Linked DNA regions of Homo sapiens. The protein of the gene in region 2 purifies or fractionates together with the protein of the main gene of each other region. This does not show direct contact. Each region holds a gene or a part of one and is shown on either strand. Other genes may lie near its edges. The genes, in order: MTHFD1, CNN1 and MTHFD1L.

Region 1 (3,650 bases), on a different chromosome or scaffold from region 2:
GCATGAGCCGCTGTGCCTGGCCTGAGCCTATTTTCTTAGCAGTTGAACAATAACAGTACCTACTTCACAGAGTTGCTGAGAAAATTGAGAGAAAATTTAGGTAACATCCTTAGTAGACAGGCCCTTCTGCCAATCAAGTCCATTTATTTATGGCCCACAATGTACCTCCTCTATGCCACCACATGTCAAGACCAGGATTCAGGAAATGGTGCTTTCTTGTTGTTTGGTTTGTTGTTTTTACCTGTCTCTTTGATGAGTTCCAAGCATCCCTTAGGCGTACAAGGAATGAAACAGTCATTGAGGTCACCTCTAGCAAGTTTCCCAGCATTGATGCTAGTCAATCTTAAAAAAGTGATGGAAATAAGAAGGAAATAAAGGCAATTAGATGTCTTTACTCTTTAGAAACATTTATGCTGTATTCCCCAAATAGAAACATATTATAAATGAAAGCATGCAATGAGACATAGGAAGCCAAGCCACACTTACCCATCCACATCCTTCTCGGGTGCAATAGCATTGATCACTTCTTCAGTGTTAATGGAATTCTCTGAATCTAAAGGTAGCTGCACTAAGAACCCATGTACAGTAGAGTCTTCATTCAAAGATGTAATGTACTTCATCACCTAAAAGTAATACCATATATAATTTGTATATCACACAGAAATCAAAAGGTAGGAAGAAACACTTTCTAAGGCAAAAATTAGGTTGCCCTATTTCCCCCCAACACTTTAATTATAGTCCTTTCAGAATGTACCTTCCCCTTGAATCCTGAGAGCACCTGTACTTTAACATAGAATGCATCCCCTAGGTGTCTGGTAAGAAGTCCATCAAATAAAAGAGCTAAGAGGCTGGGCGAGGTGTCTCATGCCTGTAATCCCAGCACTTTGGGAGGCCAAGTCAGGAGGATTACTTGAACCCAGGAGTTCAAGACCAGCCTGGACAACACAGTGAAATGTGATATCTACAAAAACTTTTTAAAAATTAGGGCCAGGGGCTGGGTGCGGTGGTTCACGACTGTAATTCCAGCACTTTGGGAGGCTGAGGTGGGTGGATCACCTGAGGTTGGGAGTTTGAGACCAGCTGGGCCAACATAGTGAAACCCTGTCTCTACTAAAAATACAAAATTAGCCAGGTGTGGTGGCACATGCCTGTAATCCTAGCTACTCGGGAGGCTGAGGCAGGAGAATTGCTTGAACCTGGGAGGTGGAGGTTGCAGTCCGCTGAGATAGTGCCACTGCACTCCAGCAGTGAGTTGAGATTGTGCCATTGCACTCCAGCCTGGGCAACAATAGTGAAACTCCACCTCAAAAAAAAAAAAAAAAAATTAGGGCTGGGTGTGGTGGCTCACACCTGTCATCCCAGCACTTTGGGAAGCCAAGGCAGGCCTCCCAAAATATAGAAAATTATTTTCTATAATTTGCACCTTACAATACAATAGCAGCTACTGGATCACTTGAAGCCAGGAGTTTGAAACCAGCCTGGCCAACATGGTGAAACCCTGTCTCTACAAAAATATAAAAAATAAGCCGGGCATAGTGGCGCATGCCTGTAATCTCAGCCTCTCAGGAGGCTGAGGCATGAGAATCGCTTGAACCCAGGAAGCGGAGGCTGCAGTGAGCTGAGATCATGCCACTGCATCCAGCCTGGGCAACAGAGCAAGACTCTGTCTCAAAAAAAAAAAAAAAAAAAAAAAAGCGGGGACAGGTGCGGTGGCTCACGCCTGTAATCCCAGCACTTTGGGAGGCTTGAGTGGGCAGATCACTTGAGGTCAGTAGTTTGAGACCAGCCTGGGCAATATGGGCAATTAAAAATACAAAAATTAGCTGGGCGTGGTGGCGCATGCCTGTAGTCACAGCTACTCAGGAGGCTGAGGCATGAGAATCGCTTGAACCTGGGAGGTGGAGGTTGCAGTGAGCCAATATTGCACCACTGCACTCTAGCCTGGGCGACAAGAGTAAAACTCTGCCTCAAAAATAAAATAAAATTAGCTGGGCATGGTGGCTCATGCCTATAGTCCCAGCTGCTCAAGAGGCTAAGGTGGGAGGATCACTTGAGCTTAGGAGGTTGAGGCTACAATGAGCTATGATCACACCACTGTGCTGCAGCTGAGGCAAAAGAGTGAGACCCTGTCTCTAAAAATACAATACAATAAAATAAAAAGAGCTAAGAACTCTAATAACTTATTACAGCAATAATACCCATGTTACAATCATCCAAATCAAGATGTAGAGCAGCAATGTCCAATCATCTTTTCTGCGATGGCAGAAATTTTCTATAATTTGCACCTTACAATACAATAGCAGCTACTTAATCCTTGCAAAGTGGCTAGTACAACCAAGGAAGTGAATTTTTAATTTTATTTCATTTTAACTAAATTCAAATAGCCTCATGGGGCTAGTGGCTCCCATACTGGACAGCGCATATATGGAACATTGCCATAACCTCAAGAAAGTTGCTTTATCCTCCTACAGTTTAGCATTAATCTCCCACCTACAGGCAACCACAGTTCTGACTTTAATCACCGCTGATTTGTTCTGCCTAGTCCTGAACCTCATATAAAAGGAATACATATTTGGTTTTTAGAATGCAGATAATTACAGGCCAAGGATCGGTTTTACCTATTTTTTTGAGACGGAGTTTTGCTCTTTTTTCCCAGGTTGGAGTGCAATGGTACGATCTTGGCTCACTGCAACCTCCGCCTCCCGGGTTCAAGTGATTCTCCTGCCTCAACCTTCCAAGTAGCTGGGATTACAGGCATGCGCCACCACGCCTGGCAAATTTTGTATTTTTTAGTAGAGACAGGGTTTCTCCATGTTGGCCAGGCTGGTCTCGAACTCCCGACCTCAGGTGATCTGCCCACCTCGGCCTCCCAAAATGCTGGGATTACAGGCATGAGCCACCGTGCCTGGCTCCAAGGATCAGTTTTAACAAACACAACAGATGATTTGGAAGCAAACAGTACTGCAGTCACACTTTGAGTACCAAATGTTCATCCCTGCACCATCTCCTCTGTGGGAGTCTGTGAAGAAAGAATACCTGGAGGTGCCAGGCGTGGTGGCTCACGCCTGTAATCCCAGCACTTTGGGAGGCCAAGGCGGGTAAATCACCTCAGGTCAGGAGTTCAAGACCAGCCTGGCCAACGTGGTGAAACCGCGTCTCTATTAAAAATATAAAAATTAGCCAGGTGAGGCGGTGGGCGCCTGTAATCCCAGCTACTCGGGAGGCTGAGGCAGGAGAATTGCTTGAACCTGGGAGGCGGAGGTTGCAGAGAGTCGAGATCGCATCATTGCTCTCCAGCCTGGGTGACATGAGCAAAACTGTGTCTCAAAAAAAAAAAAAAAAAAAATACCTGGAGGTCTTGGCTAAATGTGTCAGTCCCCAAAGCCCCCGTAAACCAAAACCAGAGAGGAAACCACTTCACCTTCCCTCTTCACAATCAACTCATAAAAGCTCACCTCAGATTCTGTGGTTGTTCTTGGTAACTTAATGTGAGTGGCTTTGATCCCAATCTGCAAAACAGACATTAAAAGCAGGTAAATGGCAAGACAACTTGAGATATTGAACCATTTCTTTTACAGACATGACTAACAAGCAAGGAGGTGTTGGTCATCATTTCACCCTTATATGTTCTGAAGAATGAGTCCCTCACT
Region 2 (3,650 bases):
AGGGGATGAAGTGGAAGTTGGGAGCTCATTACAAGAGGCCAGGAAACAGACTCTGGTGGCTGAGACCCAGGTGGAGGTGGCGGGGAGCAGTGGGTGGTTTTCTGGACTCATTAAAAGGCAGAGCCAAAGAACTTTGGAGGGACTGGACATGAGGCTGAGAGAAGGAGAAAGGGGGAGTTGGGGGCAAGTCCAAGGGCTCTGGCTGAGCACCTAGAAGGGGGCACTGCTAGGCAGGGAAGGTGGAGGGAGGGGGGAGTCTGGAGGGGGAAGCTGCATGTCAGGAGTCTGGAGCAGGGTGAGTTTGATTTGAGACACCCAGGCACCCATGGAGAGAGCTGAATGAGATGGTAAGAAACCCAAGCTGCAGGGAGATGAGGGAGTTGCTGGCATATGGAGGCACTTAAAGTCAAGACACTGAATGAGGCCAGGTGCTGTCACTCATGCCTGTAATCCCAGCGCTTTGGGAGGCTGAGGCAGGAGGATCGCTTGAGCCCAGGAGTTCAAGACCAGCTTGGGCAATACAAATACAGTGAAACCCCCTCTCTACCAAAAAAAAAAAAAAAAAAAAAGCCAGGCATGGTGGTGCGCACCTGTGATCCCAGCTACTCGGAAGGCTGAGGTGGGAGGATCGCTGGAGCCTGGGAAGTTGAGGCTGCAGTGAGCTGTGATTGCACCACTGCTCTCCAGCCTGGGCGACAAAGCCACACCCTGCATCAAAAAGAAAAAAAAAAGAAAAGAAAAGAAAAAAGAGGCGAGATCATTAAAGGAGTGAGTCAGAGAAGAGGCCCTTGTGGGCTTCCTGCTGTCTACAAGAGAAAAGGATGCTGAGACACGCCTGCCAGTGAGGCTTCGGAGATCCCAGAGACTCGGACACACCTTGGATAAGCAGGCTTTCTGACTGGGACCTGAGTCTAGCTCCTTGGCATCAGTGTCCCATTTGTGTGTGTGCTTGGGTGGTTTGGAGGGGCTGCAGCTGAGAGCTGACTGCAGGGAGAAGTGACGCTAGGGTATGGCATGGCCCCTTGTGGTCATCCCGTCACCCTCCTCCTGCTGGGCTGGGCTGGAGAGCGGGAGTGGGGGACACCTTTCTTTCTTTTTTTTTTTTTTTTGAGACGGAGTCTCGCTCTGTCCCCAAGCTGGAATGCAGTGCTGCAATCTCAGCTCACTGCAACCTCCGCCTCCTGGGTTCAAGTGATTGCCTCAGCCTCCTGAGTAGCTGGGAGTACAGGCATGTGCCACCACGCCTGGCTAATTTTTGTATTTTTAGTAGAGATGGGGTTTCACCATGTTGGCCAGGATAGTCTCGCTCTCCTGACCTCGTGATCCACCCGCCTTGGCCTCCCAAAGTGCTGGGATTACAGGCGTGAGCCACCGTGCCCAACCCTGGGGGGACACCTTTCTTACCCCTTCCCCACTCTTCTCAGATTCATCAATAAGCTGCAGCCAGGCTCCGTGAAGAAGATCAATGAGTCAACCCAAAATTGGCACCAGGTGAGCCCAGACACAATCTCTTCCATCCTTGCCCGCAAGCCCCTCAGACCTCCCCTCCCCACCCAGTGACCACCACCTGCCCCCCTCTAGCTGGAGAACATCGGCAACTTCATCAAGGCCATCACCAAGTATGGGGTGAAGCCCCACGACATTTTTGAGGCCAACGACCTGTTTGAGAACACCAACCATACACAGGTGCAGTCCACCCTCCTGGCTTTGGCCAGCATGGTGAGTGTGGTTGCAGGCTGGGCAGGGGGTGGTGGGCAGCCTGGGCTGGGATGCAGGTGTGGCCACTTGTGCTCCTGAGCCCAGTGAAGGTGGCGGAGCGGGGGGCAGGGATCGGGGAGCAGGTGCTGTCAACAGCGTCCAAGGGGGCCGGGCGCGGTCGCTCACACCTGTAATCCCAGCACTTTGGGAGGCCAAGGTGAGCGGATTGCTTGAGGCCGGGAGTTTGAGACCAGTCTGGCCAACATGGTGAAATCCCGTCTCTACTAAAAATACAAAAATTAGCTGGACGTGGTGACGCATGCCTGTAATCCCAGCTACTCAGGAGGCTGAGGCAGGAGAATCGCTTGAACCCGGGAGGCGGAGTCTGCAGTGAGCCGAGATCGTGCCACTGCCCAGCCTGGGTGACAGAGCCAAGACTCCGTCTCAAAAAAAAAAAAACAAAAAACAAAAAACAGTGTTGGCCGGGCACGGTGGCTCACGCCTGTAATCCCAGCACTTTGGGAGGCCGAGACAGGTGGATCACAAGGTCAGGAGATTGAGACCATCCTGGCTAACATGGTGAAACCCTGTCTCTACTAAAACTACAAAACAAAATTAGCCGGGCATGGTGGCAGGCGCTTGTAGTCCCAGCTACTAGGGAGACTGATGCAGGAGAATGGTGTGAAGCCGGGAGGCGGAGCTTGCAGTGAGCTGAGATCACGCCACTGCACTCCAGCCTGGGCAACAGAGCGAGACTCTGTGTCAACAACAACAAAAAAACAGTGTCCAAGGGGACTGTGCAGCCTGGAGGCCCCCTTGTCAGTCCCTGCTTTCCCTGCCCCACCTAGGCGAAGACGAAAGGAAACAAGGTGAACGTGGGAGTGAAGTACGCAGAGAAGCAGGAGCGGAAATTCGAGCCGGGGAAGCTAAGAGAAGGGCGGAACATCATTGGGCTGCAGGTACCGCCCTGTCCTCACTGCGCAGAGGTCATAGAGGCCAGGAGGGCACCCTGATGTCTGAAGGCTTTTGGGGACAGGATATTTGGCATTAACTATACTATAGGCCGGGTACTGTGCTTATGCTCATCTTCCATTCACAAACTCACTCACTCTGCCAACACCCCAGCAGACAGGTGCTTGTTATCAACATACCCTTTCCGCAGATGAGAAAACTGAGACCCGGAGAAGCTGGCTCGCTTTTGCACAGATCTTCCAGCTGATGCGTGGCAGGCTGGAACTTCAATGCTAGAAGTCAGTCATGTGATAGGCCCACTCTGGGCCTCAGTTTCCAGTCTCGAAAGGATGCCTCAGGCGGGGTGCAGTGGCTCACACCTGTAATTCCAGCACTTGGGGAGGCTGAGGCAGGAGGATTGCTTGAGGTCAGGTGTTTCAGACCAGCCTGGGCAAAATAGAACCCCCCTCCACCGCCATCTCTACAACAAATTTAAGAGTTTAGCCAAATGCAGTGGTGTCTGCCTGTGGTCCCAGCTACTTAGGAGGCTGAAGTGGGAGAATCACTTGAGCCCAGGAGTTCAAGGTTACAATGATTGCATCACTGGACTCCAGCCTGGGCGACAGAGTGAGACCCTGTCTCTAAAAATGAAAATGGGCTGGGTATGGTGGCTCATGCCAGTAATCCTAGCACTTCGGGAGGCCGAGGCAGGCGGATCACTTAAAGTCAAGAGTTCAAGGCCAGCCTGGCCAACGTGGTGAAACCCTGTCACTACCAAAAATACAAAAACTAGCCGGTGTGGTGGGGCACACCTGTAGTCCCAGCTACTCAGGAGGCTGAGGCAGGAGAATTGCTTGAACTCAGGAGGCAGAGGTTGCAGTGGGCCAAGATTGTGCCGCTGCACTCCAACCTGGGCGACAGAGTGAGATGCTATCTCAAATAAAATAAAATAAAACAAAAAAATAGAATAGAACAAAATAAAATATAAAAATAAACTAAAA
Region 3 (3,650 bases), on a different chromosome or scaffold from region 2:
TTTTTTTGTAGAGACAAGGTCTCAGTATGTTTGCCCAGGCTGGTCTCGAACTCCTGGCCTGAAGTGATCCTCTGGCCTTGGCCTCGCCTAGCACTGAGATTATAGGCATGAGCCGCTGTGCCTGGCCTCATTTAAGTCTTCAACGTAAGTCTTATCTAAGGCTACATATTGATAGATTTAGTAAGCTGAAACTGGAAGCATATTTTACTGTGGTTATTTTGACTGTTTCATGAGAGAAATTGAGCATGTTTAAAACAGGGCTAATCGTTTATCTCTACTAATTTCTCTTTTAATTTATAAGATGGTCTTACTAGAAAAAGTTTCTAGGTATTCATCTGTATCTCCCAAAAGATGAGAAAAATAAAAAAAGTCAACGTGAAATATCACTTCTATGTTCAATTAGAATCTTCTAGAAACATCCTAAAAGGATATCAGAATAATAATTTAAAAAAATTTTTAATTCTTCCCCAAACAAATCCTTATTAAAAATAATGTAAATACCAATAAATAGAAATCAGCGGCATTTCTCAAGGAGCATCCTACCTGATTTTTCAAGAAGTTCAATTACAGCTTTGGCAACAGGTGAAACAAAACATTCATGGGCATCCCCTCGCACCAGCTTCCCCAGGTTTATGTCTGTTACTCTGAATCAGAAAATAAAGAAGTAGGTTAAGTCAAAGCCCAGCCAAAAAAATCACTCACGTGTAATGTACATATATTAACCCCAAATAACATCCAAGTCAATGTTTGATAGACAGAATACATAAAAATGAATTAAAGAGGACCAGGCATGGTGGCTCACGCCTGTAATCCCAGCATTTTGGGAGGCTGAGGCGGGTGGATCACATGAGGTCAGGAGCTCGAGACTAGCCTGGCCAACATGGCGAAACCTCAACTCCACTAAAAATACAAAAGGTAGCTGGGCGTGATGGCACGTGCCTGTAATCCCAGCTACTAGGGGGCTGAGGCAGGAGGATCGCTTGAACCTGGGAGGCAGAGGTTGCAGTGAGTTGAGATCATGCCACTGCACTCCAGCCTGGGCAACAGAGCGAGACTCCATCTCAAAAAAAAAAAAAAACCCATAAAAAATGAATTAAAGAGAAAGCAGGCAATAAAGGCCATTCAATAAAGGTCTTAGAAAATTCTAAGGCAGTACCTTAGGAAACTTCACCCTGGCCCTGACATTGGGTGTTCCGGTTCTGCCAATATACCAGGACACAGCCTAAAGCCATACAGGGCTTCACTTCGCAACTCCAGGGAGCTCCTTTCAATGGACCCCAATGGACTAGCATCCCTAGAGTTACACAGAAGCATGGTCCTGCAGTCCACTCAAAACCCAGAACCAATCCTATAAATCTGGAGTGACCCAGTAAGACCTGGGATTGAGGCACAGGTCACAGGTCTGATTTCAACTTGACCTCGATATTTATCTCCTTGAGAAGTCGGGGTGGGGGGCAGTGGAAAAAATGAGTGACCACACACTTCTGAAGGGTTCTGTGCCTTTCCCTGTTCAAATCTAGGACAAAACATTCCACAGCTATCTAGCCTAAACTGAGCACGTCAATCTCAGTAACAGAATGGAGACATTTAGAACCATTTTCGTAATTTCTCCTTTTACTCTCTGTTGTTTTTGTTTGGTTGGTTTTTCCTGGCTGGGCCTCAGCATGAATTCCCCTCCTTTTATGAAAGACTTGAAACTATGCCCTAGGACCTTCAAGTTCTGAAAGTTTTCTCATGGATTAGTGCTTCTTCTCCTTTTACAGTTAGTCTACGACAGGACTGGAGATTGTCGTTTTTTAAAAAAATGTTTAATTATTTACTTAAAAATAGAGACAAGGGGCCAGGCGCGGTGGCTCACTCCTGTAATCCCAGCACTTTGGGAGGCCGAGGCAGGCGGGTCACGAGGTCAGGAGATCGAGACCATCCTGGCTAACACGGTGAAACCTCGTCTCTACTAAAAGTACAAAAATTAGCCAGGTGTGGTGGTGGGCACCTGTAGTCCCAGCTACTCGGGAGGCTGAGGCAGGAGAATGGTGTGAACCCAGGAGGCAGAGCTTGCAGTGAGCCGAGATCGTGTCACTGCACTCCAGCCTGGGCAACAGAGTGAGACTCTGTCTCAAAAAAAAAAAAAAAAAATAGAGATGAGGTCTCACTATGTTGTCCAGGCTGGTCTTGACCTCCTGAGATCAAGAGATCCTCCTGCCTTGGCCTCCCAAAGTGCTAGGATTACAGGTGTGAGCCACTGTGCCCAGCCAGGACTGGAGGTGTTCATGACACCTTTTCAGCCTGTGTTTGGGTCTACTCAAGTCACAATAAAAGGCTAGAATGGAAGATTGCTGGGTGTCTCAGGAAGGTGGTAGCCTCCCCATCCAGCCCCTGCAGGGTCTACCGGATCTGGAATCTAACTTTATAAATCTGCTTACAACCTATAACCATTAACACATTGTGTTCTTTTTGGCCACAGTACAAAACACTTCCTATATTTCCATGGAGGAAAATGGGGTTTTAATCCCCAGGAAGCATGCTTATCCCCCACTGGAGACGGCCGGTATCCTTTGTTCTATGAAGCTTATGTCACTCCATGACATGAATCACAGGCCAACATTACAGCACCCAATAGTTATGATGTTCCCCTCCAAATTTCAAATAAAACCTTGTGTCATTAAGAAAAGTATTTATTTTGCTTTTCTCAACTGGCCTGGGACTAAGACAGAATATGGTACTGCTGGGGAATCAGGTTTCTAAGTTTTCTTCTCTGGTCTGGTAGAATTACCAAGGAAAAAACTATTAGAAGAATAGAGCTGGCTAAAGATTGTATAAGTCAGACCGGAATTTATTAAATGAATCTGATGGTGTAAGATCATATGGCATTGAAGCACTATAAAAGGGCTAATGTATTTTCCAAAATATGTAACTTTTGCATGCAGAATTTTAAAAGGCTACAGATGGCCAGACACGGTGGCTCACGCCTGTAATCCCAACATTTTGGGAGGCTGAGGTGAGTGGATCACAAGGTCAGGAGATAGACACCATCCTGGCCAACATGGTAAAACCCCGTCTCTACTAAAAATACAAAAATTAGCCAGGCATGGTAGCGCATGCCTGTAATCCCAGCTACTCAGGAGGCTGAGGCAGGAAAATCGCTTGAACCCAGGAGATGGAGGTTGTGGTGAGCCAAGATCACGCCACTGCACTCTAGCCTGGGCAACAGAGCGAGACTCCATCTCAAAAAAAAAAAAATCCTATAGACTCCTGAAATATTTAAAATGATTTTTTTATCCAATTACTGACACAGTTGAAATAAATAGAAGAAATTTAGAAAAATAAAAGCAGGCACAATAGAAAAAGTGATTTAGCCATAAAGGTTGATTATTTGATTTTATTTTCTTACCCATCCACATCTTTTTCTGGTTTCAAGGCATTGAGGACTTTGTTGCTAAACAAGTTCTCAGAGATCTGAAGGGCAAGGCCATGTACTCTGGTATCTTCATTGATCTTTAAGATTTCATCTATAATCTAAAGAGAAAACAAAAAAACAAAATAAAAATTAGTTTTGTGAAAATGAGACCCAACAAAGGAAGCTTTATATAAAAAGTGGATTCATGAAAATGCATCTGTTATAGTTTGTTGTTGTTTTGCTCCTTGTTGGA

Evidence for each region.
Region 1: the proteins of CNN1 (region 2) and MTHFD1 fractionate together in Homo sapiens (co-fractionation; one large-scale study listed by BioGRID). This does not show direct contact.
Region 3: the proteins of CNN1 (region 2) and MTHFD1L fractionate together in Homo sapiens (co-fractionation; one large-scale study listed by BioGRID). This does not show direct contact.

Annotation. Positions count from the first base shown.
Region 1 is NC_000014.9:64,412,331-64,415,980, reverse strand, and holds part of MTHFD1 (C-1-tetrahydrofolate synthase, cytoplasmic), read right to left. Parts: intron 3,510-3,650; coding exon 3,456-3,509; intron 624-3,455; coding exon 487-623; intron 343-486; coding exon 242-342; intron 1-241. UniProt on the Homo sapiens protein: Trifunctional enzyme that catalyzes the interconversion of three forms of one-carbon-substituted tetrahydrofolate: (6R)-5,10-methylene-5,6,7,8-tetrahydrofolate, 5,10-methenyltetrahydrofolate and (6S)-10-formyltetrahydrofolate.
Region 2 is NC_000019.10:11,545,251-11,548,900, forward strand, and holds part of CNN1 (calponin-1), read left to right. Parts: intron 1-1,424; coding exon 1,425-1,491; intron 1,492-1,581; coding exon 1,582-1,719; intron 1,720-2,546; coding exon 2,547-2,657; intron 2,658-3,650. UniProt on the Homo sapiens protein: Thin filament-associated protein that is implicated in the regulation and modulation of smooth muscle contraction. It is capable of binding to actin, calmodulin and tropomyosin. The interaction of calponin with actin inhibits the actomyosin Mg-ATPase activity.
Region 3 is NC_000006.12:150,882,628-150,886,277, reverse strand, and holds part of MTHFD1L (monofunctional C1-tetrahydrofolate synthase, mitochondrial isoform 2 precursor), read right to left. Parts: intron 3,517-3,650; coding exon 3,392-3,516; intron 645-3,391; coding exon 544-644; intron 1-543. UniProt on the Homo sapiens protein: May provide the missing metabolic reaction required to link the mitochondria and the cytoplasm in the mammalian model of one-carbon folate metabolism complementing thus the enzymatic activities of MTHFD2.